Regions from separate parts of the Homo sapiens genome. Here region 2 is linked to region 1. The links come from fine-mapping of genetic effects on gene expression. A gene starts in region 1. The other region holds a variant in brackets. All regions are shown on one strand. Distances are between the middles of the regions. Region 1 holds the start of LINC01140 (long intergenic non-protein coding RNA 1140). Region 2 has its middle 130 kb from the start of LINC01773.

Region 1 (4,394 bases):
CCTTCAATGAGACGTCCATGAGGTGATGTCTGGTTTTTCCTAAATACAATGGCCAGTCGATTATTAGTTCATCCAGAAAAAATATAGATGCTGTCATCGTATAAACATGAGTCTCCACATAGAACTGAGCCTCAGACCCGCTGGAGGTGCTCTGTCTGGGAAACACTGAACTAGAATTTTGGGTGGAACGAAGTAGAAGCTTTACTTTTTATTTAACAGTAGCCTGAAGACCTCCTGCAGAATAATGGAAAGGATAAAGACCTGGGAGCCAGGATACTAAGGTTCTGGCATTAGCTCTGCCCCCCAGTTGTCTGTTTGACCTCGACCAGAGGGAAACAGTTTTACTACCTCTCACAATACTGTGCAGTCTGGATTGGTATCTCCATGTAATCAATAAGGAAATAGGGGCTCCAGGAGTTTACCCAAGGCCGGGCAGCAGATCAGTGGCCAGACCAAGCTTCAGCTGCACGTCTGCCCGACTCTGAAGAGCACGTTGCCTTCACAAGCCATCAAATCCCTTCGTGCTTTGGCCTCTTCATCTACCGCTTGAAGGGTCTGTACCAAGTGGTCATGGTTCCTTCCAGATACAGCAAACCGTGATTCTAAGGTTTCACTGATCCCTTAAAATCCAGTTTTAGTGCTCACAAACCCCATGGTGATAACAAAAGAGCCTTTAAAAAGGATTTATCCACCTATAAAAACCATTAGATTTTATTTGGGGCTGTGGGCAAAGAACACCAAAGCAAACGTGTTGGAACATCAAACCTCCTTTAAAATTTAGGGCAGCAGGGACAGAGGAGAAAATCTGCACAGGGCAAGGAGGGACAACTTACAGATTCCATGGCTGGAACCAGACTGCGGGACACTATTTATCTGCCATTGGCTTCCTGGGGGATAATTGCCTCCTGACAATTGTTTAGACTTGATAAATACATGAAATGGGACCGCCAACAGTTTATCTGGCTACCAGTTCAGATCCGGACAGAACCAGATGAAGAAGTCAGGCATATTTGCAATAACCTCAAAGATAAAACCTTCCTATCAGAGGCAGCTTATCTCCTCCTCTGGGTCATGCTGCCTAGTAACTGCCACCTCCAAAAGAAGGAAGGGGAGAGCACTTCTAGCAGGGGGTTCACAGTGGGCCTTGCTTGCCTTGAACTCCCCTTCCTGCCCACACGACAGGCCACCTGTCTGGCAGCAAGGGAGTGGTACTGTGCCCTGATCTGGAAGGCTTAGGAAAGATGTTGGCAAGGAAAGTGGAAGTAATGAGCAACTAGATCCCAAAGCCAAGGTCACCTAACTCTGAGATGAATGCGTTCCTTGTGGGCTCTTCCTCTGTTTCACATGGACAAGCTAAAGGAACTTCAGGCCTCCCCAGCAAAGATAACACCATGAATCGCAGCTCACAGGAGCTGGGACCCTGCTGGGCTACATACTCACCCCATGACCAAAGGCAAGTGGGACCTCTGGGCCTCAGTTTCCTCACCTCTCAGGGGTTTGAGCTAAATAATCCCTAAGATCCTACTGAGCCATTTTATGGACTGGAATCAAACCAGCCAGACCTCTTTATGGTTTAAAAGAGGCCAGAGGTTTCATCGAAGAACCATCTCCCTCCCTTACATTTTTCCTCAGCCCGCTTGCTTTTCTCTTCTCCCTCCCCGACACCTCTCATTTGCCGGCCACAAACCTCCATCCTCCAACTCCTTTCCAACGTCAGTAGCTGGCTCCACCAGGCTGGCTAAGGAGCGAGGAGACCATCACCTCAGAAAGCAGCCCCGCTGGGAGGTCCACGGAGCAGTTCGCCGAGCTGTGCACAGGCCCTTTATTTTCCATCTGTCAAGAAAGGAAGCTGCCTGTTGCTTATTTCCTCCTCCCACTCTTCTCCCTTCCCGCCAGCAGACTCTTCCACTTTCAAAATATTCTGATGGGGGATCACAGGAGTTTTCCTCAAACAAGATCACTTGGGGTCAACTACTGAGCAACTCCCAGCCTCAGCCCCACCCATTCCCTCACCCTCCAGCTTGAGCAATAGCTCCAGTTAGTAAAGCAGTTGGATCAACAGGACAACAACCAAAAGTGACCTTCTACGTCCTAAAGCCCTTGCCTGACACCACCTCTTTTTTTTTTTAAATTATTCAGGGGCCTTTTGGGGACCCCCAGTTGAGCTGTATTCTGCAGAAAGAACTTCCAAACGAAAGGAATAAGGCATTGTTTTACCAAGAGCCTTTTCTCCCTCAAGAAACACAATGTAAACTAGGAAACTTGCACTTTCTTTTACCTTTGGGTAGATGAGCAGAAGGGAAGAGTTACTACCCAGGGTGAGGTCATTCCTCCATGGTGGTAGAATATCTGGTTCTTTCAGTTTCCCCATGGTGCTGGCCTCACAATAGGTGTTCATGAGGTGCAGGCTAATTGGGTGAGTGGATGCAGTGCTCTGATGGATTTATTCAGTGTACAAGATTGCAAAGCCATGTGCCAGCAAAGGCTTAACCACCCCACCCTACCCTTCAGACCAGCCCCATAGCTTTCCATGTCCCTGTCTGCCCAGCCTCAGGCCAAAGCAAAGGCAGGGATCTGAGCTGTACCCACTGTGAATGCCCATCTCCTGACCCCTGTGCTAGTGTCTTGTCCCTGCATGCCTCGGCTGTCTTCTCTCTGGACTATGATTCATGGCAGATATTAAAAAGGAAACAGCATCCTTCAATTCTTTCTACCATTTCTCTTATCTTTAAAGGGTTCTTATTAAGCAGTATCTTCAAACTTATTTATGTGATGTCATGCTAGGAAGCAGCGTTGTCAATGTGCCACTTTCCATGAGCACTGAATTCAGTAAAAATAAAAGCCAAATAAATGATATATTGTCTCCATGCAGAATCTTCTCTAGTCATGACTAGCTATCCAGATAGTAGGGAATCCCTAAAGATAATCAGATAATGGTGACTTTTGCTTACTGAGGCAAGCTCCCCTTTCCTCTGCGCTTCTGGAGTGATTGATCCAGAGAGGCCAGCTTCTTGCTGGGGCACAGCTGCAATCCGCTGTAAGAAGCCAGCCCAGAAGCGGGGACACAAAATCATGGGGAGCCGACCATGGCCAAAGCATCATGCTATTACCCTTCACTTCACATTTTTTAGCTCTTTTTTGAATGTTATGAAAGATACACAGATGTATATATTTTATGTTTTCATATTAAAATGTTTTCATATTAAAAATCAAAGGGCAGGAGGAAGTGAGGAAGGGGAAGAAAGTAGCATTCAAACGCCAAGCATCATGCTGGGAACTTGGAGTTCTCAAGCCCTCCAGTCTTGGTCACTGGGGAAGGGAATGGGTATCACCCGCTTAGTTCATATTTGAATAACTGCTCATACTTGAAAATGTCTTCAACTGCAACAACATGAAGTGGGGAGCCCCCACAGGATCTCCACGTCTTCCCTGAGAGCTCTTGGACCATGCTCCTTCATCCTCCATGATTTTGATCTTGCAGTTCTGTTTACCTTCAGTGCCTTCTCACTCTTTACACCCTCATCCCAACCCCTTCCACTTTTCAAGACTCATTTAGACATCATCCCCAAGAAAGCTTCTGATTCCCCACTGTCCAGTCCCATCTGGGTGGGTACCCATAGAGATGTCCTGTACACCTTGTCCCCACGTGTTAGAATACTCTGTATATCTGTCTGCTTCCTCAAGGTACTGTGAGCTCTTTGAATGAGAGTCTTGTTCAGGTTTGCATCCCCAGTATCTACTGGTTCAGTTCTAGGCTACCACTTGCCCAAACAACACCTCTGTGTTCTAAGAAAAAGAAGAATGCAGCCCCATCCCTCCCACTCACGCCATACGCACACTGTCAGCCTCCAAGCAAGGCCATGTGACTCCCTTGTTCAAGTCAGAAAAAGGTTCTCCCTCCTCATAGTGGGTGCAGCTCTACAGCAAGGAGCAAGGCGTGGTGAGTAGGAGATGAGCTGGATGTCAGCACCCACTGGGCCCAGGCTCCAGGTAACCTGCACAACTGTATTGGTTGGCTCTGGTTGGATCAATCACTCCATCCAGAGAGCAGTGACCCACTTCTCCTGACCTCTGGCTCAGCTTCCAAGACACCAGGCTGCTTTTCTGCTCTACTACCAGCTACTCCCTCTAACTACAGCTGCTCCATGAGGTAGATAAGCCCCTGTGTCTCTAATGGCACAGTGCCCCATGCAACCCAAACACAGACCCCCAGGAGAGAGAAGCCAGGGAGGTCCTGTTTCTTCCAGGCCCATTGCCAGCCTCTGTCCGGGTCTGGGCACATGGGCTCATTTACATGGCTGGTTTGGAGCCTTTGGCAGATGAAAGCGTGCGGATGGTTTTATATGTGTTGCTCATCATTAAACCTCCCCTTCAGGGTTTCTTGCCGCCTTTGG
Region 2 (4,394 bases), 910 kb before region 1:
CGGGTGAAGGCTCACAGGGAAGAGAGACTGGGCTCCTCTCCATGTGGTTGCTTCTGTGTGCTGGAGATGCCAGTGTAGCGACTAGGTCCTTGATTCCTTCCCCAGAATGAGGAGAGTTAGGGTGGTACCACTGCAGCTGCAATGGCGAGGGGCTGTGAATTGTCTCTAGGATTTGCTCCTCAGAGAATTGCAGAGCTGCCTCTGACTGAAGTGTTCAGGCAGGGGCAGGGTTGTTGTGCTGGAGTCTCCGGTCAGGAGGCCCCACCCAGTAAGGAGAAGTCGGGATGGGGACCCACGTGGAGAACAGCCCAGCCACTATTCCACAGGGCAGCTGCACTGTGCCAGGGATCCACGCCAGTCCCTAATCACCGCACAACCTCCGGGGCCTGAGGGCTGCCAGACGGCAAATATGGTGGCCTGCCCCTCCCTCTGGGAGTGCTGCCCCAGGGAAGTACAGAACTGCCACCCAAGAGCCCCCACAAGGGGTGGCTGGGATCCCAGCTTGGGAGGTCCCGCCAGTGAGAAGCAGAATTGAGGACCTGCATAAAAAATAGTCTGGTTGCTTTTCTGTGGAGCAGCTGCACTGTACTGGGGCCCTGCACCATCCTCTAATCATTGCACACTCTCCAGAGCCTGAAGGCAACAGCAGCTAAGGCTGTGAAGTAGCAAAAATGGTGGCCTGCCCCTCCCTCTGGGAGCTCTGACCCACGGAAATGTAGAGCAGCTACCAGTGGAGGGCGGTTAGAGTCTCAGGTTGGGACGTCCTGCCCAGTGAGAAGAAGCGGGATTGAGGACCCACATGAAAAACAGTCTGGCTGCTTTTCTGTGAGGTGGCTGCACTGTGCTGGGGGTCTGCTCCAGTCCCAGGTCACCAGGCACTCTCCAGAGCCTGACGGCAACAGCGGCAAGGGCTGCCAGATAGCAAAGATGGCAGCCTGCCTCACCTGCTGCGCACTCTGTCCAAGAGAAGTGCAGAGCTGCTATGGGCCTGAGAGCCCCAGCTGGGGGTGCCTGTCGTCCTAGGCCAGTGAGCTTTATTTTGTGAGGTTCAGTGGAGGCAAAGGCCTGCAGTCCATCACTGCTCAGCCCCCTGGATTTGCCCTTTTCGTGGGGGCATGCAAGGGAGCCCGACTTACCCCATTGCTGGAGCTGGAGCTGCTAAGGCTGGGATGCCCAGGGATCCAATGCTCTGGGGACTCCACATGTGCCTTAGTGGCAGCTCTGCCCAGGCACTGATATAGGCAGAAGACAGCCAAATGCCTAGGCAGATAGGGAAAGGTCCCTGTAGAATCTCCAACCCACCCTACAAGTCTTTACACCAGATGCTTTGTGCAGATGGGGAACCCGCACAGGCAGCTTGTCTGGGCATGCCCCTCGAGCACTGCCGGGAATGGGGTGGAGCCACCAGGAATTCGCGCCTTTGGCCAGGGAGGAGCCTGGCCTCCTCAACTCCCGTGTAGTGGCCTGACATTCAATTCTGTGAGATGGAAGCTTGGGTGCAGGACCCCTCTCTTTGTTGAGAGCTTTCCTTTTGCTTAATAAATTCCGCTCTCCTCACTCTTCAATGTGTCCTTGAGACAAGAACCCGGATTTAGCTGAACTAAGGAGCAAAAAATCCTGCATAAGCACCACATAGGTCTTCATATCAGTCTGAAGGCCCTGGTGGGATGAGTTCATGAGGGGATCTCTTGAGCCCAGGGTTGCAAAGGTCTGTGTCAGAAATAGGAGTCGCCAGGGATGCTCACTCACTCACTGATTCCCTGCTGTGGTGGAGCCTCCCCTGGTTCTGTGCCACTCCCCATGGGCAGTTGTCCAGTCTCGCTCCTCTCCATTCTCCACCGGTAGAGCTGATTCCTTGATTAATCCCAAGGTGTCCATCTGCATATTTAAGTTGAAAATCTAGTATTTA[C/T]GCCTCTCTTTTTCTTTTCTGTGTCAGAGCGGCACATGATAGCTGCTTCTAGTCAACCAACTTGAAGCCCTAACCGAGTACTGATATTTTCATTGTAACAGGCAATTAAACTGATTGTACTGAAATTACAAATGCTGTTCCTTGGGCAGCAGCTCAAATACCAGTTAAGAGTTCCTTTTCTTTTTAGTTTTGTTTGTTTATTTGTTTTAACCCTTATGTGTGCTGCTTTGTGTTTGTCTCAGGTACATGTGGTTCAGGACTCAGCAGGAAATTTAAGCTGAGTCTATCACAGAACTTGGTACCTCTCCAGCTTGAAGTATCTCTCATTTCTAATATTTCTCCCTTACTCTTCAACAGCTATGGTTTTCCTGAACTTAATCCTCTGGATCTTCAGAGCAGAGAAAGTGTGAGTTTCCTTTATTCAACTTCAGCTTTTCCTCAGGCTAAAATTCCTAAAACAGAAAATTCAATGCATGTAAGACGCGTTTTCCAAGTTTATGGTCCACTCCACCATCTGTCTTGTTTTGTTCACGTTTTTTGAAGTTGTTTGTTTTTGTAATTATCTAGAGTTGTGGTTGATGTATTTAAGAATGTCAGACTAGTAGGAGCTTGATCAGCCTTTTAGGAACCAGAACTCACTTCAAGCTATCTTGAGCTTATATGCCATCAATCTTAAAATATGATGAGCTGAGCATGTCCTTAAAGTCCCAACTGCTTGGGAGGCTGAGGCAGGAGAATTGCTTGAGTCAGGAATTTGAGGCTTGTACAGTGTGCTATGATCATGCCTGTGAATAGCCACTGTACTCTAGCCTGGGCCACGTAGTGAGACCCCTATCTCTTAAAAAATAAAATGATAGCATGCAATTCAATAATTTTTAGACAGTTTTATTTAGATAAAATCCACATACCATAACATTCATCCTTTTAAAGAATACAATTCATGTTTTTTACTATATTCACAGTTACACAGTAATCACCATTATCTAGTTTTAGTACATTTTCATCACCCTACACAGAAACTCTGTGACTATTAGCAGTCATTCCCCATTCACCCTCCTTGCAGCCGCTAGAAATCACTAAACTGCTTTCTGACTATATGGATTTTCCTATCCTGAATACGTCATAGAAATGGAATCATAGAATATATGCTTTTTTGACTGGCTTCTTTCCCTTAACGTAATGTTTTCAATGTTCATCTATGTTGTGCATGTATTAGTAATTCATTCACTTTTATTGCCAGATAACGTTCCATTGTACAGATATGCCACATTTTACCTATACAACAGTGGATGGACATTTGGGTTGTTTCCAGTGTTTTGCTATTATGAATACTATGAACATCCCAGTACAAATATTTATATGTACATATATTTTCATTTCTCTTGGAATATAATTATGTGGGGGGATGACTAGGTCATATGTTAAATCTTTGCTTAACTTTTGTAGGAACTGTCAAACATTCCAAAGAGGCTTCAGTATTTTACATTCTTAACAATGTATTACGGCTTCAGTTTCTTCACATTTTTGGCAACACTTCTTATTATTTGTCTTTTTTATTTTTGTTATCCACTATAGTGAGTGTGAAGTGTGTCACATTGTGGTTTTAACTTATATTTCTCTGTTGACTAGAAATGTTAACCATCTTTTTATGTGCTTGTTGACCATTAATGTATTTTCTTTGGAGAAATGTCTATTCTAATCTTTTGCCCATTTTAAAAAATTGGAGTATTTTTTATTTTTATTGTTGAGTTATAAGAGTGCTTTGTATGTCTTGAACAGAAGTTCTTAGGAGATAAATGATTTGCAAATATTTTCCCCCATTCCATGGGCTGTCTTTTCACTTTATTAATGGTGTCTTTTGAAAATGCAAGTTTTTACATTTTAATGATGTCCAATTTATCTATTTTTTTTTCTTTTCATAGTTGTACTTTTGGTGTCATATTTAAGAAGCCATTACCTAATCCAAGGTCAATGAATAATTATCATTATTGTTTTCTTCTAAGAGTTTTATAGTTTTAGCTCTTATATTGTAGACTATGATCCATTTCGAATTAATTTCTGAATGGAATGTGAGATAGGGGTTCATTTCCATTTTATTTTACATGAAAATATCCAGTAGTCTCAGTGCCAATTTTTGAAAAGATTTCTTTTCCCCTATTGAATTGACTTGAAACCCTTGTGAAAAATCAATTTACCATAAATATAAGAGTTTACTTCTGAACTTCCAGTTCTATTCTGTTGTTTTATCTATGTCTACTTAGGCCAATACCACGCTGTCTTGATTACTATAGATTTCTGGTAAGTTTTGAAACTGAGAAGTGTAAGTCCTCCAACCTTGTTCTTTATTTCAATATCATTTAAGTTATTCTGGGTCCCTTGCATGTCCAAGTAAATTTCAGGGTAAGCTTGTTAATTGTTGCAAAAAATGAAGCAGTAGGAATTTTAATAATAGTTGCATTGAATTTATAGATTAATTTAGGGAATA

Evidence for each region. PIP is the estimated chance that this variant, and not a neighbour inherited with it, causes the effect.
Region 2: its variant is fine-mapped to the expression of LINC01140 in spinal cord (GTEx, PIP 0.99).

What each region holds. Positions count from the first base shown.
Region 1 is chr1:87,127,288-87,131,681 of GRCh38, reverse strand. LINC01140 (long intergenic non-protein coding RNA 1140) reads right to left here and starts at 1,917. Exons shown (of 3, transcript NR_026989.1): 1 at 1,688-1,917.
Region 2 is chr1:88,032,772-88,037,165 of GRCh38, reverse strand. No RefSeq gene overlaps it. Among named protein-coding and RNA genes, the nearest start is that of LINC01773, 130 kb to the right of the region's middle. RefSeq lists enhancers at 1,147-1,848, 881-2,080. The variant C/T (reference allele first, on the strand shown) is at 1,910.